Regions from separate parts of the Homo sapiens genome. Here all the other regions are linked to region 1. Evidence: fine-mapped expression QTL. A gene starts in region 1. Each other region holds a variant in brackets. All regions are shown on one strand. Distances are from middle to middle.

Region 1 (5,145 bases):
ATTTTCCAGTTACTGCCAAAGCTTAATGAAGTTAAAGATATTTGCAGTGTTGTATAATTAACTCACATCCATAGAGTTCTGCGGCAGCTTTTAATGGGTTCCTTCCTATAACTAACAATCTCCTGCTTACTCGTCTTAAAAAGTTTCATCTTCATGTGGTCTCTTTTTTTCTTCTGCTGTCCCTTCCTCTTCCTCTTTCTCCTCTTTAAAGCAGCAGGTTGTTTTACTTCTTGATTAGAGTATTTTCACAAGTGGTCACTGTTTTTGAGAAGTCTCCAATAACTTGGTCAAGATTAGATCATTGTATTTGACTAAAAAGTCAAGCCCTGGCAGGAAGGTGATTACTGAGGCAATGTCTTGTTAGATAAACCTGCATTGCATGTACCGTTTCCAAATTTTAGCAGACTAAACTGTGCAGCATTGTTTGAATTTCCCCCTCCAACTCACTCTGGCTATTAATCTGCCTTAGGAGATAGGTAGCTGGCCGTTCTCATTGTTATATATCTAGCAGTCTCTGGAGGAAAGAGAATTCAGACCTGGTAACTGAGAGCAAAATATTTATACAGACACAAGAATGGGGGTGGGCAGGAAGGGAGGGTTGTAACTGAAAAAAGGCAGACCAAAACAGTTTTGACAACTTAAATTTATTGTAACTGCCCAACAAAGGAAGTAGAGTTGGAGGTTTATCTGCAAGAGGTTTTTTTTTGTTTTGTTTTTTGTTTAGTAGCTCCACCTCTTAATTTATTATTATTATTCATTTTATTTTATTTTTTGAGACAGTCTCGCTCTGTCACCCAGGCTGGAGTGCAGTGGCACAATCTTGGCTCACTCCAACTTCTGCCTCCCGGGTTCAAGCGATTCTCTTGCCTCAGCCTCCTGAGTAGCTGGGATTACAGGCGCCCTGTCACCACGCCCAGCTAACTTTTGTGTTTTTAGTAGAGACGGGGTTTCTCCATGTTGGCCAGGCTGCTCTCAAACTCCTGACCTCAGATGATCCACTCACTTCTGCCTCCCAAAGTGTTGGGATTACAGGCGTGAGCCACCATGCCCGGCTTTAATTCATTATTGTTAATATTTTTGAGACAGGGTCTTGCTCTGTTGCTCAAGCTGGAGGGCAATGGCACCATCATGGCTCACTGCAACTTCAACCTTCTAGGCTCAAGCGATCCTCCTGTCTCAGTCTCCCAAGTAGCTGGGACCACAGGTGCATGCCACCATGCCCAGCTAACTTTTTTTTTTTTCTTTTTGTAGAGACAGGGTCTTGCGATGTTGCCCAGGCTGGTCTCAAATTCCTGGCCTCCAGCCATCCTCCCACCTGGGCCTCCTGATGTGCTGGGATTACAGGCGTGAGCCACCAGACCCGGGTTAGCTCCACCTTTTAATGGAGGAGAATGATAAGCAGGTTGAAAATGGTGGGGTGGGATTGGAGAAATGCATCATCGTAAAATATTTTTTAACTGGGGGCCCATGTTGGGAGTCGCACGGTTTCTCAGAAAAGGATCCAGTAGTAGCATTAACCGAGGGAGAAAGATAAGCTGTGGGGAAAGGGCTAGTGATTCAGGAGTTGGAATTCCAAACATTTTCCATAGCTTGTCAGGAACATTTGTGCAGACCTTTGGATATATAGAGAGGGAGTCCGTCTGCTGATAAAATGAGCGCTGGGTTTACCAACCTTCGGCCTTGGCCCACCCCTGATCCTCACCGCCGGGCAGTGAGATGGACACGTTATTTGCCTCCATTTGGTGGACTGCGCTCTGCGCTTCCAGAGGTGGAGCAATTGTCCGCCTCCGCCCGGCCAGCACGTGCGGGAGGCTGGATTTGAACCAAACAAGTTATCTGTGTACCCCACGCCTTTGCTTTTACCCACTAGGCGGTAACGTGATTTCACGCCTGAGAGTTTCTTGGCTGAACAAGTTGGAAATCACTGGTTTCAGAGATTGGAAATCACTGGGTGCACGCCCCTGGATTCTTTCCCTAGCCACTCGAGGCCGTCGCGCTTGCCTCGACGTCTCTATTCGCACAGCGCGCAGTTACCACCGCCCCACTCCCACCGCGCCAGCCTGCGGGACTCTCGGGCTTCCCTCGGGCGGTGGGAAAAGAGCCTCCCGGGCTGACTCTGCTCGGCGCGCATGGCTGCCAGGGGAAAGTATTGTCCTTAAATCCAGAGCGGCGATACGCGCAGGGGAGCGATCTCAGACCGCGGCGGAGCATCGGTGATCCCAGGGCCTGCCGCGTTCCAAGGCAAGCGCTAGTACTGCGAGCAGACAGTGGTCACTAAGAAGTCATTACCAGATTGGCAGGGGGAGTCCTAGGGATCCGGGTCCCGCCGTCCCTCACACCTCCCTCCGCGTCCTTCCGGACCCCAGGGCGACGCGGACCCGGCCGGGGGAGCCCGGGGGAGGGGGCCGGGCCGGGGTGGGGCGGGCGCGCGTGCGCGAGCTGTCAGACCGGCCCCGCCCCTCCCCTCCCGCCCCTCCCCCGCTCTCCGGGTGTAGGGCGGGCGGGCGCTGCGGCGGCCGCGGCTGCTGCTTCCTCGGGCCATTTTGCTGTGGAGCGGCGGGGAGGAGGAGCCGCCGAGGAGACCCCGGGCGAGGAGCTGCGAGCCGGAGGAGGCCGCGCGGACTCCGGGCTTTCCGCCGTCGCGGGGATCTCGGGGGGCAAAGGGATCGCCGGGGAGGGGGACCAGAGAGCCGCGCCCGCCGCGCGGAGCGCCCCTTCGCGTCCCCTGCACCATGAGCTGGGGCACCGAGCTCTGGGTGAGTGAGGGGCTGGGCCCGCGGGCAGATGCGGGGCGCGCGCTGCGTTTCCCCGCGGCCTGGGGAGGGGGCGCGGGCCGCGCTGCTGGGCGGAGGCGAGGGCGCGCTGGTCGGGGTCCTCGCGGCCTGGGGAGGAGGCGGGGTTCCAATGCCCCTCGTCCGCCTTGGCCCGAGCAGGAGGTGCGGGCCGGCTTGTCCTTCGGAGGCGAGGGGAGTTGGTGCGGGTCCCCGGCGGCCTGAGGAACGGCGCGGGCGGGCCTCCCTGTCCCCGGCGCCCCGGAGCGGGCCGTGTGTGTCGGGCCGAGCCCTAATCCCCCGGGGCGAGCCGCGGATGCCCGGGGAGGGCCGGGACCGGGCGTGGGGGCGTGGAGGCCCCGGCTGCGCGGCGCTGCGTTGGGTCTCGGGGCGCCCCGGCCGCGAGTTCTGTCCTGGCTCCGCGGAGGCGCTGGCGGATCGGGCACTTCCCCGGGAGCGGGGCGGCCGGGGCGAGCGCCGGGGGTCGGGTTTTGGGGTGCTGGGGCGAGAGTGCGGTCTTCGCTCTGGAGGCGAGGACTTCTGGCCCGTGGCGGCTCCGGGCGCACTTGTTCTTTCGGGGTAGCTCAATCCTGAGTGGGATGTGGGCACTGCGACGTCTGGTCTGGAGGGGAAAGTGGGAGTTAGGGAGAGATCTTACGTGATCTACCTCAGGAAGAGGCGTTCGCGGGGTCAATGATCTTTAACGGTTGCTCGGAGAATAGTTTCCAGTGGGGAAAGTTGGCGGTGAGGGGCGCCTTGCGGGGATGCTTGGCCGGGGGATGCGCACGGTAAACGGGCAGCCCTCAGGGCTGAGGGCCGTCCCCGGAAAGGCGAGGGGCTGGCTGTGGATGGAGCTCTTTTCCTGCCGTCCCCGGATTCCTGGGGAAATCACTGGGCAGGGGATGGGCAGTGCGGCGGCCCGGGAAGGAGCAGACGAAATCTCAGTTACTGCACTGAAATGCCCTCAAGATGAGCCATTTCCCAGGATGAACTCTAAAGTGCCTGAACTACCTTTTGGAATTCTATTTGCAAAGGGTGTGGAGGAGAAAGTGTAGGGTGGTGTTGCTATCTGAGATGAGGCCAAGAAATCTCATATCAAAATAAAACAAGGTTAGAGCAATTACAGAAACAGAGCACATCCTCCCTTGTTTTTTGTTTTGTTTTCTTTTGCTTTAATTGTTTTTACATAACCATTTGTTAGGTACAGAAGCAGCTACGGTTGTTATTACCAAAATCCTGAGGGCAATAGCTCCCTTAAATTAAGATAATTCATTTTATAAACATCTTCTGCCTAAAAGGGATTCATGACAAAATTTCCGCTGATGTTTACAAGTATCCATTTTGAAAATAAAATAGTTTAAAATATTTGCACACACCAGTTTAGGCAAAATCTATGACTTTGAGTACCGTATTGAAGTTTCTTTCCTCTTCTAATCCTTCCACTCCCTTTAGCTCTCTTTAGCTTATCTGGGGTGGGGAAGCAAATCAGAAGTAATCTTTGTCAAGACAGTAGAAATTGTGGCACAATTTTTTTTTCACTTGTTCAGACAGGTGGATGGAATTATGGAGGGAAAATGTACAATATATTTCTGAGTGAAATAGGGACCGAACACAATACCTTGGTGGACAGTTCAGTGATGTTGGTGAATGGGATAGAATATAATTCCAAAGAGAGGCAGTGGCTATGAGCAAAACTGCTAAAACAGCGGCAATTGCTTGCATTATTCTGTACATTTCTTTTTGAGGGTGCAGAAGTGGGAAGGAAGGCAGGGTTAGGAGTGATTGAAAATAAATGAGAGAGGCCGGGCGCAGTGGCTCAGGCCTATATTGCCAGCACCTTGGGAGGCTGAGTCGGGAGGATCTTTTGGGCCCAGGAGTTCAAGAACAGCTTGGGGAATATCTGGAGAGGCCTCCTCTTAAAAAAAAAAAAAAGAAAAGAAAAAAGAAAAAAGAAAAAAATAATAAATGGGAACTGGAATATATACAAATATTAATGATATGAAATCTTATATTTGCTTCACAATAATTTGGGTTGTTAGTAGATGGGAGATAGTGAGACAGAGTTGGCCATTATTGAAGCCAAATGCTGAGTACAGAAGTATTCATTACACTATTCTTTCTAGTATATATATTTGACATTTTCTACAATAAAAATAATTGGAAAATAGTTTTAAAGGAGAAGGATGTGAACTATTTGTAATTTTTTCACTTGACAATTTTATGAGGAAGAATGAATCAGTTAACAGTTCTATATATGCAAGTGTATGGCAATGAGGAGTTTTTAAAAAGACATTCTTTTTTTTTTTTTTTCTGAGACGGAGTCTTGCTCTGTTGCCTGCCCAGGCTGGCGTGCAGTGGCGTGATCTCGGCTCAC
Region 2 (5,145 bases), 150 kb after region 1:
AAGACCAGCCTCGCCAACATGGTGAAATCCCATCTCTACTAAAAATACAAAAACTGGCTGGGCATGCTGGCAGGCGCCTGTAATCCCAGCTGCTCGGGAGGCTGAGGCACGAGAATCACTTGAACCCGGGAGGCGGAGGTTGCAGTGAGCTGAGATAGCGCCACTGTACTCCAGCCTGGGTGACAGAACGAGACTCTGTCTCAAAAAAAAAAAAAAAGCTGCAGCAGCAGCCTTCCAGATCCTTCTCTACTATGCTTTTATCCTACTCATGGTATGATTATTATTTGGTTGTATATTTTGACTTTTGGTTCGTATAACTTAACAGCTTCCAGAGAGCTTGCTTCACTGCAGCAGACGATAGGGAGGATGATCATTTCATCCATTCATTTAATATCTAGTATCTATAGCGCTCCTGTCTTGTAAAGGCCCATGAAGTGGGGGGATGCAGGTCGTATGATATGGCACCTGCCCAGAGGGAAATCAGGCAGACACACTTAAGGAGCAAGCAGCGGCTGGGTGCAGTGGCTCACGCCTGTAATCCCAGCACTTTGGGAGGCCGAGGCAGGCGGATCGTGAGGTCAGGAGATCGAGACCATCCTGGCCAACATGGTGAAACCCCATCTCTACTAAAAATACAAAAATCAGCTAAGCGTGGTAGCGCATGCCTGTAATTCCAGCTACTTGGGAGGCTGAAGCAGGAGACTCACTTAAACCAGGAGTCGGAGGTGGCAGTGAGCCGAGGTCGTGCCACTTTACTCCAGCCTGGCAACAGAGCAAGACTCCCTCTCAAAAAAAAAAAGCAGGCAGTTTGCAGTGTTTGCCAGAAGAGGGATACAGAGGAACGGGGAGGACAGGGGAGAATGAGGTCGCTTCCTTAAGGAAGTTTGGAGAACTTGCCATGGCATGGGGGGTGTGGCCAGAAATGGGTGTGGTGTGGCTGGAGCTTAGATGTCTTAAGTCCTAATAGTGAAATGTGGCACTAAAGAGTGGGAAGTGCCAATGGGGGCGAGGTAGGGAAACATCTGGGTTTTATGTGGCAAACATTGAGGAGCTATGGGAGGTCCCCTAGCAGGGTGTCGATGCAGTCAGAGCTGTACCTTAGGAAAGTCATCGTCAGATGTGTAGGATCCACTGGAAGACATGGAGGATGGTTAGAAAGACTAGCCCAGGCCGGGCATGGTGGCTCACGCCTGTAATCCTAGAACTTTGGGAGGCTGAGGCAGGCAGATCACCTGAGGTCAGGAGTTCTAGACCAGCCTGCCCAACATGATGAAACCCCGTCTCTACTAAAAATACAAAAATCAGTGAGGCGTGGTGGCGGGCGCCTGTAATCCCAGCTACTCGGGAGGCTGAAGCATGAGAATTGCTTGAACCCAGGAGGCAGAGGTTGCAGTGAGCCAAGATCGTGCCATTGTACTCCAGTATGGGCAACAGAGGGCAACTCTGTCTCAAAAAAAAGAAAGAAAAGATAAACTAGCTTAGTGTTTCTAAACCAATGAACCTTGAAACGATGTCCTGCAGAGCGTTAATAAGGAGGCCATGAAAGAAGCTCTCAGGCCAGGCTCAGTGGCTCACACCTGTAATCCCAGCACTTTGGGAGGCTGAGGCCAAGAGTTCAGGGCTACAGTGAGCTATGATCGTACCACTGCACTCCAGCCTAGGCGATAGTGTGAAACCCTCTCTAAAAAATAAATAAATAAATAAATAAAATTACGAAAAAGTTGCATTTTAATATAATGAATAAATTTTTAAAACTAGCAATCAGAGCTCAAGTAAGTTTGGGAAGCCCTGGGATAAATAAATTTTACAGATTTCTTTACTACAGGACTTTTCAGAGCCTTTAATAGACTAAATGTTCATTGTGACAAAATAAGAAAGACGTACCAGTTTAAACGTTCCCAGTTTTACTTCATATTCCAACCATCCCCCACCGTACCCTGTTGCCCTGTTAACAGCTCCCTAAACTCTTTGCCTTGCAGAAAACTGGGGGGTGGTGGGCAGCCTTTGAAATGATCCTAGCAGAAGGTCTTGGGGGCCTTGTTCAAGGAATGGATACAGAGATGCCGCCATTGACAAACTGCATATATTCGGGGCTGATCAAAAGCCAGGAACAAAAAGGAGAGGAAATCCAAGACGGCTCCCAGAGTTGCATTCCTGGGAGGACAGAGAGGTCTAGGGAAGTGGAAAAGCAGGAGGATATAGTTAGGAGGAAGAACAGTGAATCCAGGTTCATCTATGTTGTTTCAGGTGTTGGGGCCATGTCTAGGTGGCAGTGTGCTGCAGACAGTGGGAAAAGTGGAATCTTGGCTGCAGAAAGTACCAGAATGGAAGCAATATGTGAGGACAGTGTTTAAAGAGGAGCAGTTGGGCCGGGCGTGGTGGCTCACGCCTGTAATCCCAGCGCTTTGGGAGGCCGAGGCGGGTGGATCACCTGAGGTCAGGAGTTCAAGACCAGCCTGACCAACATGGTGA[A/G]ACCTCGTCTCTACTAAAAATACAAAATTAGCCGGGCGTGGTGGCACATGCCTGTAATCTCAGCTACTCGGGAGGCCGAGGCAGGAGAATCACTTGAACCCGGGACAAGTGGCATCACACTCCAGCCTGGGCAACAGAGCAAGACTCTGTCTCAAAACAAACAAACAACAACAACAAAAAAATTGGGAGGCTGAGGCTGGTGGATCACCTAAGGTCAGGAGTCAGACCAGCCTGACCAACATGGTGAAACCCCATCTCTACTAAAAATAGAAAGGTTAGCCGGGTGTGGTGGTGCACACCTATAGTCTCAGCTGCTCGGGAGGCTGAGACAGGAGAATCGCTTGAACCGGGGAGGTGGAGGTTGCAGTGAGTTGAGATTGCACCACAGCACTCTGGCCTGGGCAACAAGAGCAAGACTCCATCCCCCACAACCCCCCCAAAAAATAACAGACAAAAGAGAAGCAGTTGGAGCCACGAGGGTACCTTTCTCCTGAGAGAGATCCAAGTGAGACAGAAGAAGACTAGAGAAGAGAACCAAAGATTTATCCAGTGAGAAATACTTACCATTCTGGGAGGGAGGAGAAAGAGGGCCCTGGAGGACTTAGAGAGGGTCCCTAGAGAGACAGAGGTAAGAACCTGGACATTTCTGTGCAGAAGGAGATGGTTTTGAGGCAGTGGGTGAGGGGTCCGTGCATCTGAGAAGGTCCGAGTGGGGTGAATTTTGTGTGGACTTCATCTTCGACGACACTTGTTTCATTGCGAAGGCCACTGTTTGCTTCCTCCCTGCATTTGCCAAGACATCTAACATATCCTGATATTGCTTTTTCAGGTCAGAATGAAGGAACGATTTCCGTAGTTGAAGGAGAAACATTGTATGTCATAGAGGAAGACAAAGGCGATGGCTGGACCCGCATTCGGAGAAATGAAGATGAAGAGGGTTATGTCCCCACTTCATATGTCGAAGTCTGTTTGGACAAAAATGCCAAAGGTGCTAAGACTTATATTTAATACCATAAAAAAAAAAAACTTAAAAAAAATGGAGTTGTTTCTCCCCACAACCATGACTGTTACAGGCAGTTCCTCAAGAGACTGGCTGGCAAGCACCATAATGCACGTTCTCCTGTAGTCTCACGTGGACTTCAGGGTCTGGGCACCTGAATTGCCTTGTCTAGTTTGGGCTGTAATCAAGTTTCACTTGCTGATGAAATTTTATGTGGAAAGCTGCCAACCGCCAACTTACAGCTATGTCATTCAAAATCTGATAAACATTTCTTCTTTTGGCGGTATCTGTAGATTAAAAAAAAAGTTGCATTGTAGCTTCTCATCTTTCTGAATTTAAAAGCCGGCACGCATCATGCAGGTGCCAAAGACTTCCCTACTCTTGTTTATATCTAGTATCCACCATACACTGAGCTACATTAGGTGGTTACAGATTGTAACTTAATAAACTGAACTGTGTTAGTTTGTTAAATTGTATACTCATTCACTTGGGAGGAAGTCACAAGTGAAATAACATCTCCTTCTTGACTAAAGCAGTAAATAAGATTCTTATATTGGCACCAAAAGTGTGTGTTTTTACTTAAACCTGGTCAGCATCCTTGGTAGGGCATCACGAGTACCCTGTTCCATCTACATGATCCCAGACAACCAGCTGAAATCTGGAAAAGTTTGGTGAATTGACCACTTGATTTTTACATTGCATTGCTGATTTTCCAAGTGTCATCAAATTGACAGGTTTTTGTTGTTGTGTTTGTGTTTTTGTTGTTGTTGTTGTTTTGAGACAGAGTCTGGCTCTGTTGCCCAGGCTGGAGTACAGTGGCTCACTGCAACCTCCGCCTCCCCCAGGTTCAAGCGATTCTCCTGCCTCAGCCTCCCGAGTAGCTGGGATTACAGGTGTGCACCACCACGCCTGGCTAATTTTTGTATTTTTAGTAGAGACGGGTTCGCTCTGTTGGCCAGGCTGGTCTCAAACTCCTGACCTCAAGTGATCTGCCTGCTTCTGCCTCCCAAAGTGCTGGGATTATAGGCGTGAGCCACCGCACCTGGCCCAAATTGACAGTTGATCAGATGTGCTAGTGCTGTTTAGATGGAGTTACTTAAAAGGCAGAGCGTGTCCCTGCATCAGCTCCTTTTGGCTGTGATTTCCTCTCACACTTGGTTCGGTTTCTGTTGGTTTTCCAAGTAGAGCTGCACTCACGCTTGCCCAGGTGGGGCTATAAAGAGAACGTGGTGTGGCAGCAAATGCTTCTCCCCACAGACACAGATCTCAGCACATTGCTGTTCAAAGACTTTGGGGGTTTGCTTTTGTTTTTTTGTTGTTGTTGTTTTTGTTTTGTTTTGTTTCTGCTTTTAATCATTGGCAAGGTTTGGATTTACTGGAAATTATTTTAGAATTTCTGGCTCATTTTATACAATTAACTGTAGCCAGAATGAAGTAAAATGTCTCACCACATCGAAAGGAATCTAGGCCACATGAGAATTTGCATTTTTAAATTGGCATTGATGTGGGAGGGGAGATAGTGAAGTTGGTCACATGCGTAGATGGTTGCCAGGCATTTCACTGTGCCCATTTCCAGAATCCACCCCGAGATCATAGACAACCCACTACAAATGGGTCAGAATGAAGGTGTTGGGTCAGATTCTCTTTTTATTTGATTTTGAAAATTATTTCCT
Region 3 (5,145 bases), 160 kb after region 1:
AGTGCAGCGTGCGGCCTCTGGCTGCAGCGCCGGCTTTCAGAAGGCTGGGGCCAATGCCAGGGGAACCCCAGGCTCAGCAGGGAGGGAGCAGGATCTGGGACAGAAGATCCGAAAAGTGAGGCCTCAGGGCCTCTGCGGGACCCACCTGCTGGAATTTCCACCACCACCTGCTTCTACAAAGACTGATAGAAACAAAGACGCAGTAGTGTGGGGGGTCTGGTCCCAGAGCCCCTTCCCCACCCACGCCCCGTCTGCTTTGATCCTGATGATGGTCGCACCTCGCCCTGGCGGTTTCTCCAGGGGCTTTGGTGCCTTGCTGTGCTCAGTGGCTCCCTCCACTCAGCATCCAGAGGCTGCTTCCCAGGATCCACCTGAGCGCTGCACCCTGCACAGCCCCCACATCCCTCCAGGTGGGCTCTGCACTGCTGCTGCTGGGAGGAAGGGAAAGTCTGTCTTCTTTAGCATCAGCTCGGGAAGCTGCCTTTGCCTCAAATGGCCAAGCTGTGAGGTATCCCTGTTTCATCATCCGGTTCCCTGGTGGGGGCTCAGCAAATTTCCCATGAAGATGAACTGCTGAACTTCGAGGCAAATTACAGCCAATCCAGGGGGCAGGCTCAGCAGGACGCGGTGTGGGGGACCAGCTGCCTCCAGAAACATCCCCCACTGGCAGAAATCCAACCTCCTCCTGGTGTTCCAATCAGCAATGAGTCCAGAGTCTTCAGTCTGCAGGAGAAGTGCTGAGAGCAGCCCGGGACTTCAGAGCCTTCCTGGTGACGCCCAGGAGATGCAGAGGTGCGGCGGGACCACCAGGGAGGACCTGTGAGCTCCTCACTGGCCAGGGCTTCTGGCTGCGCTCACCGGCCCTGAGCAGCTCCCTCCGAGTCTTCGGGGCTCCGGGCCAATCGCACAGTGGAGACGCCGTGAAGCAGCAGCTACTCCCTGACTCTGGCCCAGGCCGCAGCCTCTGTCTGACAGGGGTAGCATCGGGCTCCAGGGACAAAGCTGGGCCGAGCTAGCAAGAGGACAGTTGTGGGGGACACAACGATGACAGTGACTGGCAGAGGCACTGCCAGGACAAAGACCCAAATTAACGTCACAGAGTCTTGGTCGTTTCAACAAGCCTGAAGTGCATATATTTTCTAGTTGCAGCGTTACTGCAAACCAAACCAACTTTTCTGCCTCTTTACACGGCGGGGTTCTGCAGCAGCCCGGCCTCTCTTCTGGGCACAAACACGCCTTCCGCGGGGTGGGGCACATGGGGCTGTGGGGACACGGGCACTCAGCAGTGGGGCCGGGCCATGTCCAGGGCCCTCCCACATCCTCCAGGAAGGTGCTTTCAGGGACCTGCTCTTTGGATGTTCAAAAGGACATGTGAGGGTCTCTGGAGAGTGAGGAGAGGACCCAGAGTGCCATGGAGGGACCAGCCGGGGCGACTTACAGACTAGCCCAGCAGATCACACGGCCCGCGTCTCGGCTTCGATCTTCTGCTCCCCGTGCAGGTTCTCTGGGCCCAGCGGCTGCGCCACACTCTGGCGGATGGCAATCTCGGGGCCACCTCCATACAGGCTGTTCAGGTAGGTCCAGGTCTCCTCCGAAATCTGCCCGTAGTCAGCTCCTGCAGGGCACGAGAGGCACCCCTAGGCTCACCTTTGCCTCCTCAAGGAAGCCACCGGCCTGGGCAGTGGGGGCTCCGCAGGGCCAGGCCCCGAAGCGGGAAGACGGCAACCAGGGCTTCTATGCAAAGCTGTCAGATGGAAATCAGGATTTCCCAGAGGAATGTCCATCCCGCTAAGGGCCCCGGATAACACATCTCTGGCTGTGTCCCTTGTTCCTGGGGGTGGGGCTGACATAAACAGCAGGGTGGGCAAGGCCAGCAGCAGGCAGAGGGGTGGGACCTGGAGGACACAAGCAGAGACCAAGCCCCTTGGGCCATCTCTCAGCCGCCTGGGTCTGGACTCAGGTGGACGTCTCAGCCTGACTCTAAGACAGGTGGTAAGGGGGCTCCTGGAAGGACGGGACTGGGCAGCAGCCTGGCAGCCAGGAAGGGCAGAGAGGAGCCTGGCTGACCCCAGGGGGAACTCACCCTGCTTCAGCTGGACATGGCCGCTTCCTTTGACCTGTGCAATCCTGCTGTTGTCAATGGGCCCGGGGGGCTCTGCAACAGACACAGCGGGCTCGGGTTCAGCCCCTGCCATGCCCTCCACCCTCCACAGCAGCAGAGCCATCCCAAGTGGGGCCGCCCCAGGCCTGGGGGTCAGCGTGAAGTCTCTAATGGATGAGGCGCCTGAGCCACCCAATGCTCCTCTGTGGCAGTCTGAGGACCCAGCAGAGGGAATTTCCAGGACACACGAGATGGTCTCAGACTCTGTGC[T/G]GGCCGCAGGAGCTGCGGTGGATGGCCCATGCCCTTATCTCTGCTGGCAGCTGCCGCTCACCACGCCCCTTCCCCTCTGCCCAGCTATCTCATTTAGCCTCGGCAACCACAGGACAAGACAGAGGTTTACAGAGACAGAGCCGAGGCCTGGGAAGGTGAAGTAACCACTCAGGTCATAGCTGGTAGAAGGCAAGGCCAGCGTCCAGGCCAGGGCGAGGGCTCCGGAGCTACATTCTCAACCACAGCCATGCTGAAGGCCTCAGCCACCACCAGAGAGGCCTCACGGTGGCCCTGGCACCTTCCCCGACTAGCGGGATGGCAATGAGGCCTCCCTTCCCAAGCACAGGTGGGTGCTCATGCTCCACACCAAGGGTCCCGTGAGCAGAACCGTGGGCTCTACCCACCCTGCCGGGCCCCGGAGCCACAGGTTAGATTATGCCCCGAGGGCGCCCCAGCCGAAATTTTTAATGCAGGTTTAATAGTTTAGAGCCTGTGGGCTTCCATGGCTTGGTTCTGCTGTTCTTCACTGGGGACTTGGGGGACCCTGGGAGCTTGTGATGGGGCCTGTCTCCACCTCTGTAAATCCAAGGAGTCAGATGACAAATCTGTCATTTCGGGCGACACACTCCCCTGAGGAAAGGGCCTTGCAGGAGGGCAGAGCAGCTTGCTGGGCATGGCAGGGAGTGGAGAAGGGCAGGGGGCGCAGAGCAGGAGCAGCTTCCTGCCTCTGGGTGGGGACAGTGATCCCCACTGGGGACTGGCAAAGCCCCATGCTCTCTGTTCACCCTGGATGGGTGGCACCTGGGGGCAGGCATGGGGCCTGCAGGAGCCCCTGTGTGCCAGCCCTCCCCTGCCAGCATCCCATCTCCCAGGAGGCCCCCAGGGCAGGTAAGTGCCAGGTCCCCCCTCAGCTCACCGTTGTCCTTCCCCTTGACGAACGCCTCCCACTCCCGGAACCACTGCATGCTGATGCAGTAGATGACGCCCGGCGACTCCTCGGCCTGGAAGGCCTTGTTCAACTGGCAGGCGGGCAGGGACGGGAGGAGACAGAGGGCAGGTCAGTCTCTATTTACCTTCAGCAAGGATTTCCCAAATGCCCCCGCCCCAGTCCCTCACCCAAGAGTCTTACAAAAACACCAGATACTCAAGGTGAAAAATCAAACCCCCAGACAAGCTCAAACAAAATGAACACACCCATCACTCAGAGAGGACGGTGGTAACATTTTGTGGGTCTCTTCAATAACTGTTTGACCCAACTGAGACCACAAGGGAGATTCTACTTTTTGAGAAGGAATCTCACTCTGTCACCCAGGCTGGAGTGCAGTGGCGCGATCTCGGCTTACTGCAACCTCTGCCTCCCAGGTTCAAGCGATTCTCCCACCTCAGCCTCTTGAGTAGCTGGGATTACAGGTGTGTGCCACCACCTGGCTACTTTTTGTGTTTTTAGTAGAGACGGGGTTTCGCCATGTTGGCCAGGCTGGTCTTGAACTCCTGACCTCAGGTGATCCGCCCACCTCGACCTCTCAAAAGTGCTGGGATAACAGGCATGAACCACTGCGCCCGGCCTGGGAGATGCTAATTTTCTCCGGTTGAATAGAATGTGCCTATCTGCTCAGAGAGGCAGCTCTCCTTCTGACAGGAGCATTTTCTTTTTCGAGATGGGGGGTGGTCTCACTCTGTGCCCAGGCGGGAGTGCAGCGGCGCAATCATGGCTCACTGCAGCCTTGACCTCCTGGGCTCAAGTGATCCTCCCACCTCAGCCTCCTGAGTAGGTTGGACCACAGGTGCATACCACTAGGCCCAGCCCTGACAGTCTCTTTTTCGTTTGTGTTCTGAGACAGGGTCTCACTCTATTGCCCAGGCTGCGGTGCAGTGGCATGATCACGGCTCACTGCAGCCTCAACCTCCCAGGCTTAGGTGATCCTCCCAACTCACTCAGCCCTCCAGGTAGCGGGGACTACAGGTACACATCACCATGCCTGGCTAATTTTTGTATTGTTTGTAGAGATGGGGTTTCGCCATGTTGGCCAAGTTGGTCTTGAACTCCTGGGCTCAAGTGATCCACCTGCCTCGGCCTCCCAAAGTGCTGGGATCACAGGCGTGAGCCACCATGCCCAGGCAGCAGAATCATTTCCTAATGGCCACAAAGCACGGGCGTCCCTCAGTGTCTCTCACCAGGCCCTCCCTGTGAGTGGAACACGTCCTAACCCTGTTAGAAGTAGCGTGGCAGGGAGGGAGTGCGCCAGGAGCCTCGCCTGCACTCAGCTCCCTCACAGAAGTCCCTCTTCTAAACACAGTCACACTTGAGTCCTGGTTTGCACCTTGGTTTTCACTTCCTGCTTTATCTTGGGCAGTCTGTAGAGCCCAGTGGTTCTCACCCAGGGCAGGGAGGGTACTCTGCACCCCAGGGGACCCTGGGCAATCTCTGGAGGTCATTTTGGTTGTCACTAGCACTAGTGGGTAGAGGCCAAGAATGCTGCTAAACATCCTACAATGCACAGGACGGCCCCACAATAAAGAATAATTCAGCCCAAAATAACACAGCCAAGGCTGAGAATGGGATCCATCTACTGGTTCTTTAAGCTCAACAGCACCCGGGCGATGAGGCTTCACTTACTCAAGCCAACCCTCCCACCAGGAAAAGCCCTCCTAGACACCTGGCCATCTAGTTCCCCGCAGAAGACTCCTTTCTTTTCTTTTTCTTTTTTTTTTTTTTTTGAGATGGAGTCTTACTCGGTTGCCCAGGCTGGAGCGCAGTGGCACAATCTCAGCTC
Region 4 (5,145 bases), 440 kb before region 1:
TGCCTGGCATTGCTGCAGTCATGCAAACTGTAGGGGGTGGAAGCTGCCGGACACCTTGGGAAGCCGGTGCATCTCCCTGGACACACCCCATGGCAAGGCAGGTTCTAGCATCCCCTTGCTCCCTCATGCCCTGCACTTTCCCTCAACCCCCTTTGGCCTGCACCTTTTGGGGTCTCACATGAGGATGGCAGTGGGCGGCAGGGGAGGAAGGTGCTGATACGGAGGGGAGGGCCAGGCCCGAGAGCCTGATAGTACTTTGGGATCCCTTGTGAGGCGGTTAGAGGGGGCAGCCATAGAGTCTTACGCACCGGTATACACCAGCTCAGCAAATTTCAAGCCCAGGCCTTGTTTGATTTTGCGCACTTCCCGGTCCATGGTGAAGGCCTCGATGTCTAAATGAGCATGGTAAAGGATGGTGCCTGCTGGGGTCTCGTAGATACCTAGCCATTTTTCCAGGCAGGGGGAAAAGGAGAAAAAAGAGAGAAACGCATGAAACCCAAACTGTCAGCAAATGACAAAAAAAAAAATAATAATAATAATGAGTCGTCTGACAGGAGACAAGCCGGCCGGACCCATTCACTCCCAGCTTGCTGCAAAATGCATCTGTCATTATGTTCATGCTGGGGCCACGACAGTCCACTCTGCGGCTTGTGGAGAAAATGTCTAGATGCCCCCTTTGAAGGGGCCCTCAGACGCTAGAAAATGACAGGGTTTCGGAGCAGCAACCCCTCCCTCCCCATGCGTGCCCACCGGCCCGAGGTTGAAAGCCTGTAATTAAAGCGACTACGGTAGAGCCCAGAGCCCCAAATATCCCTTCTTCCCTTCCACCAGGGAGCCAGGGGAGGGGGACAGCTGTGCACATACATGTACACATGTGTACACACATGCCACCTTCAGCCCATGGGGCCCCTGCGGCCAGGTCTCTCCAGAGGCCACTGGGGTGGCAGAGGGCTTGGGCAATCACCTAGGCTGACCGCACCGTGCAGATGGGGAAACTGAGCTCAAGAGGAGAAGGGACTTGCTCTAGGTGGAGCTGGGAACTGAATGTAGGCCCCCGAGTCCCTCACCAGTGCTGTCTGCTGCCCTGTAAGTCACCTGGCCGTGGAGGCCCAACCCTGGAAGGTCAGGGGAGAAGGGATTGCTCAAGTCCCCTCTTGTGACCTCAGGCCCAGTCCCTCCATTTGGAAAACAACCTGCTTGGAACAGATGATCTCCGAGTGAGACAGAAATGCCTGGTCTTGGGCTGAGCTGGGTCTGGGGGAAGGTCCTACTGCATTGGAGGACAGTGGGGCACCAAGAGGCAGGACCGCCCACAGCACACAGCCCAGGCCCCCTCTTGCCCCAGGAGTGCGACCTCTCGCATCAACTTCAGAGCTGGCCCTTGGGCAAGCCTGCCCTGCAGCTGCTGTCTGGGTGGAGCAGGGGCCATAGCTCCCCCATCTCCATGGATTCTACCCCGAGAGCTTCCTTTCTTCCACCATACGTTACATCACTAAAAGGGCAGGTTCTCAGTTATCCTGGGAATTTACTAACATCTTTCTACAGTGGCTGCTTGAAAAAAACCCAGAAAGGATTTGTACACTCATGTTCATAGCAGCATTAATCACAATAGCCAAGAGGCGGAAGCAACCCAGGTGTCCATCGAGGGATGAGTGAAGAAGCAAAATGCAGTCCATCCATACGATGGAATATTATTCAGCCTTAAGAAGGAAGGGGGCCGGGCACAGTGGCTCATGACTGTAATAATTCTAGCACTTTGGGAGGCCGAGGCAGGTGGATCACCTCAGGTCAGGAGTTCAAGACCAGCCTGGCCAACATGGTGAAACCCCGTCTCTACTAAAAATAACAAAAAAATTTAGCCGGGCATGGTGGTACATGCCTGTAGCCCCAGCTACTTGGGAGGCTGAGGCAGGAGGATCACTGGAGCCTGGGAGGCAGAGGTTGCAGTGAGCTGATTTCACACCACTGCACTCCAGCCTGGGTGACAAAGCAAGACTCTGTCTAAAAAAAAAAAAGGAAGGAAATCCTGACACATGCCACAGCATCAACATAAGGCCGTGACGCTAAGTGACAAAGGCCAGGCACAAAAACAAACACTGTATGTTCCACTCATGCGAGGTCCCTCGAGTCATCAAAATCATACAGCCAGAAATGGTGGCTGCCAGGGGCCGGGGTAGGGAAAATGGGGAGTTTCATGGGGCCAGAGTCTCAGCTTTGCAAAAAGAAAATGTTCTGGAGGTGGACGGTAGTCACAGTGGCACAGCCCTGGGAAAGGACCTAATGCCGTTGAGCGGCACGCTTACGCATTTTAAAATGGTTCATTTTATGTTACATGTATTTTACCACAGTTTTAAATTAAAAAAAAAAAAAAACCATGAAGGATATTGGTTTTGACTCTGAAGCCTACCGGGGATCTGGGGAGGCTGAGTCTGCTGAGCCCTCGTGCACTAACCAGAAGTTTCCTCCTTGGAGAACTCCTCCAGTCTTTGATCTTTAAGTCTTAGAATCACGGAAATGTCAGAGCTTGCATTAGGATCAATCCGGTACCGTGTTCTCCCGACTGTTAGCTGCCAACCTAATATTCAAACAGCCTGCGGCAGAAGCCCAGCATATAGAAGAGATGGCAGAGGTTGTGCTGGGAGGAACAGAGGCCCCTCTGCAAACTCTGGACTCACCTTAAATCTAGTCCCACACACCAGTTTTACAAATGAGAACCTGAGGCCTGGGGAGGGGGGTGGCTTGCCTAATACCACCCAGCCAACTGGAGGGGGAATGGGCCCGGCCCCGGGGTCTCCCATCTCAGCTCCAGGTGGCCTCGAAGGGCCTTTGGCAAAGTGATCAACTGCTAACCAGAGCGTGAGAGAAAAAGCCCAAGTCCAGGCTGTTGCTGTGGAGGAAAAGCTTGGTTCTCACCATGGCTCCGTGTTCCTGGGCAGAAGGGAACCTCTCTGGGGGCTTGGTTCTCTCATCTGTAAACCCCTGATATACTGGTGTCAG[G/A]TGACATGCTTGTGAAAGCCCCTCAGAGCAACCAGGTGCAAATATGAGTATCGTGTGCTGTGAAAGAGCCCATCCCGCTTCATTGGTGGGGGCTGCAGCCTTCGGCATGTCCACCGTCTGAATCTAGTTGTGACCTCTGATTAGGAAATGGCCTCTCTCCAAGTTTATGCAGAGATCCAAGCCCTCAAATCCCTCGGGAGTTCCTCAGGCCTCACCGTGACTCTTGTAAAACAGTTCAAATGGGTCCGTCATCATTTTCTGCAGAGTAGCTCAGAGCCACAAACCAGGAAGGGGTAAAAAGGCTGATGGCAGCAGAAACAGAGGAATGACTGAGAAAAGTCATTATAGACAGCCTGGAGAACAGGGACATAGAACTTAGCACAGGCCAGGTATGCGGGGGCTCACACCTGTAATCCCAGAACTTTGGGAGGCCAAGGAGGGAGGATTGCTTGAGCTGAGTCCAAGACCAGCCTGGGCAATATAGTGAGACCCCATCTCTACCAAAAAATTAAAAAAATTAGCTGGGCGTGGTGGCATGTGCCCGTGGTCCTAGCTACTACGCCAAGGTGGGAGGATCGTTTCAGCCCAGGAGTTCAAGACCAACCCAGGCAATATAGGGAGACCCCGTCTCTACAAAAAAATGGTAAATTAGCTGGGTGTGGTGGTGTATGCTAGGTGGGAGGATTGCTGGAGCCCAGGAGGTTGAGGCTGCAGTGAGTCATGATCGTACCACTGCACTACAGCCTCGGTGACAGAACAAGACCCTGTCTGAAAGAGAAACAAAACAAAACATGATGACCGCACACAAACATGACAGTGCCAAAAAAGCCACCAGAAAGGGGAATGGTTCAGCAGTGTGTCCAGAAAGACCAGTGTGTGCAGAAACAGGAAATCTCTGTCTCCAAAATGGCAGATATAACGATAAAGTTCGAGGAGCAAATTTTCAATCAGCCTAGAAACCTTATTACCAGAAATAAAGCAATTTCCCAAGAGCACGACACTGACAAAGTCCTGCTGGTCCTCCATCCTGGCACATGCTAGAACTGGATACATATCGGGTTGGAAACAGGCCTTCTAGTGATTAGTTTGGGTACATTTTGGAAAATTCCAGAAACTTGCAAAGCCCATCCTTACACTGGCCACAGAGTCGTAATGGCGCCATCCTGGGTAGGCCGGTAGCAGGAGCCCTCCTCATTTTCAACTCCTAGACACCCAGGCCCGCCTCCCTGCTTTTCTGTCCTCAGCTCGGCCAACTGTAGGGCAGTCCAAACTACATTTGCAGGGCTGGAGCTGGGCACCAGGAGTCCTACAACCATGCTTTACAGAAAGTGCCCAGCTTGGCCTTTACAGAAGGTGCCCAGCTTGGCTTTGCTGTGTGACTTTGGCCGGTCTCAGCCCCCTCTCTTAGACCCAGGCAACCCATCTGGAAAACAAGAAGGCTGCAAGTTCCTGCTGCTCTGACATTCCAACTTCCTTTGGGACCTACCTCAAAGGTAAGTGTTCAGAGCGTCCTCCAGGTGTGCCCTACTTACTGACAGTCTTGTCTCGAGAACATTCGAGGCCACAGCATCGCCTCCCATCAGTCCAGAGAGGGGAGGGCGCAGGTGGGGTTCAGGGCTCGAGGAAGAGCTGTGACTTGTCCAAGGTCCTCCAGCTACTGGCCCATCACAGGTGTCCCCAGGAAAATGAGGCCAGTGCCACCGGGAGCAGAGAATGTCTGGTGGGCAGAGGCCAGGCAGAACCCTCCTCTTCCTGAGCCCCCAGCACCGGCTTCCTGGCTGCCACCCTCCCAGGCAGCCTCCGGAGGGCTCACGGGCAAGGGGAAAGGCTGCAGCCACAAAACACACCAGTGCAATTAATATTCCTGCTCCTTTTCTTCGAAAGTGTTAATTGTGACGGATCAAAAAACTTGTTTTTAGGTTGCTGCCGACGCGCGCGCGCGCACGTGTGTGTGTGTGTGTGTGTGTGTGTGTGTGCGTTTAAAGCTCTTCCCTCTCCTCTCCACAGGGGTAGGGGGTACAGATGATTTCTGTGTGTTTCTTCTGGAAAAAAAAAACAGTGACAGAAACCTGATGCTAAAAGACTATGAATTTGGGGCTTTTGACAGTCGGCATACAAACCACTGCGCAGAGAGAAGGAGGAAATGAC

Evidence for each region.
Region 2: its variant is fine-mapped to the expression of FNBP1 in whole blood (INTERVAL, PIP 0.95).
Region 3: its variant is fine-mapped to the expression of FNBP1 in whole blood (TOPMed, PIP above 0.99).
Region 4: its variant is fine-mapped to the expression of FNBP1 in substantia nigra (GTEx, PIP above 0.99).

Annotation. Positions count from the first base shown.
Region 1 is chr9:130,040,563-130,045,707 of GRCh38, reverse strand. It overlaps FNBP1 (formin binding protein 1), which reads left to right and starts at 2,519. Exons shown (of 17, transcript NM_015033.3): 1 at 2,519-2,756. The coding sequence starts at 2,733. RefSeq lists silencers at 2,257-2,816, 2,997-3,156.
Region 2 is chr9:129,894,153-129,899,297 of GRCh38, reverse strand. FNBP1 (formin binding protein 1) reads left to right here. Exons shown (of 17, transcript NM_015033.3): 16 at 3,302-3,460. Among named protein-coding and RNA genes, the nearest start is that of MIR6855, 27 kb to the right of the region's middle. The variant A/G (reference allele first, on the strand shown) is at 2,473.
Region 3 is chr9:129,876,583-129,881,727 of GRCh38, reverse strand. It overlaps USP20 (ubiquitin specific peptidase 20), which reads right to left. Exons shown (of 26, transcript NM_001110303.4): 23 at 3,288-3,390; 24 at 2,084-2,155; 25 at 1,439-1,615; 26 at 1-1,261. The coding sequence ends at 1,455. Among named protein-coding and RNA genes, the nearest start is that of MIR6855, 9.6 kb to the right of the region's middle. The variant T/G (reference allele first, on the strand shown) is at 2,372.
Region 4 is chr9:130,484,628-130,489,772 of GRCh38, reverse strand. ASS1 (argininosuccinate synthase 1) reads right to left here. Exons shown (of 15, transcript NM_054012.4): 12 at 309-440. Among named protein-coding and RNA genes, the nearest start is that of ASS1, 42 kb to the right of the region's middle. The variant G/A (reference allele first, on the strand shown) is at 2,998.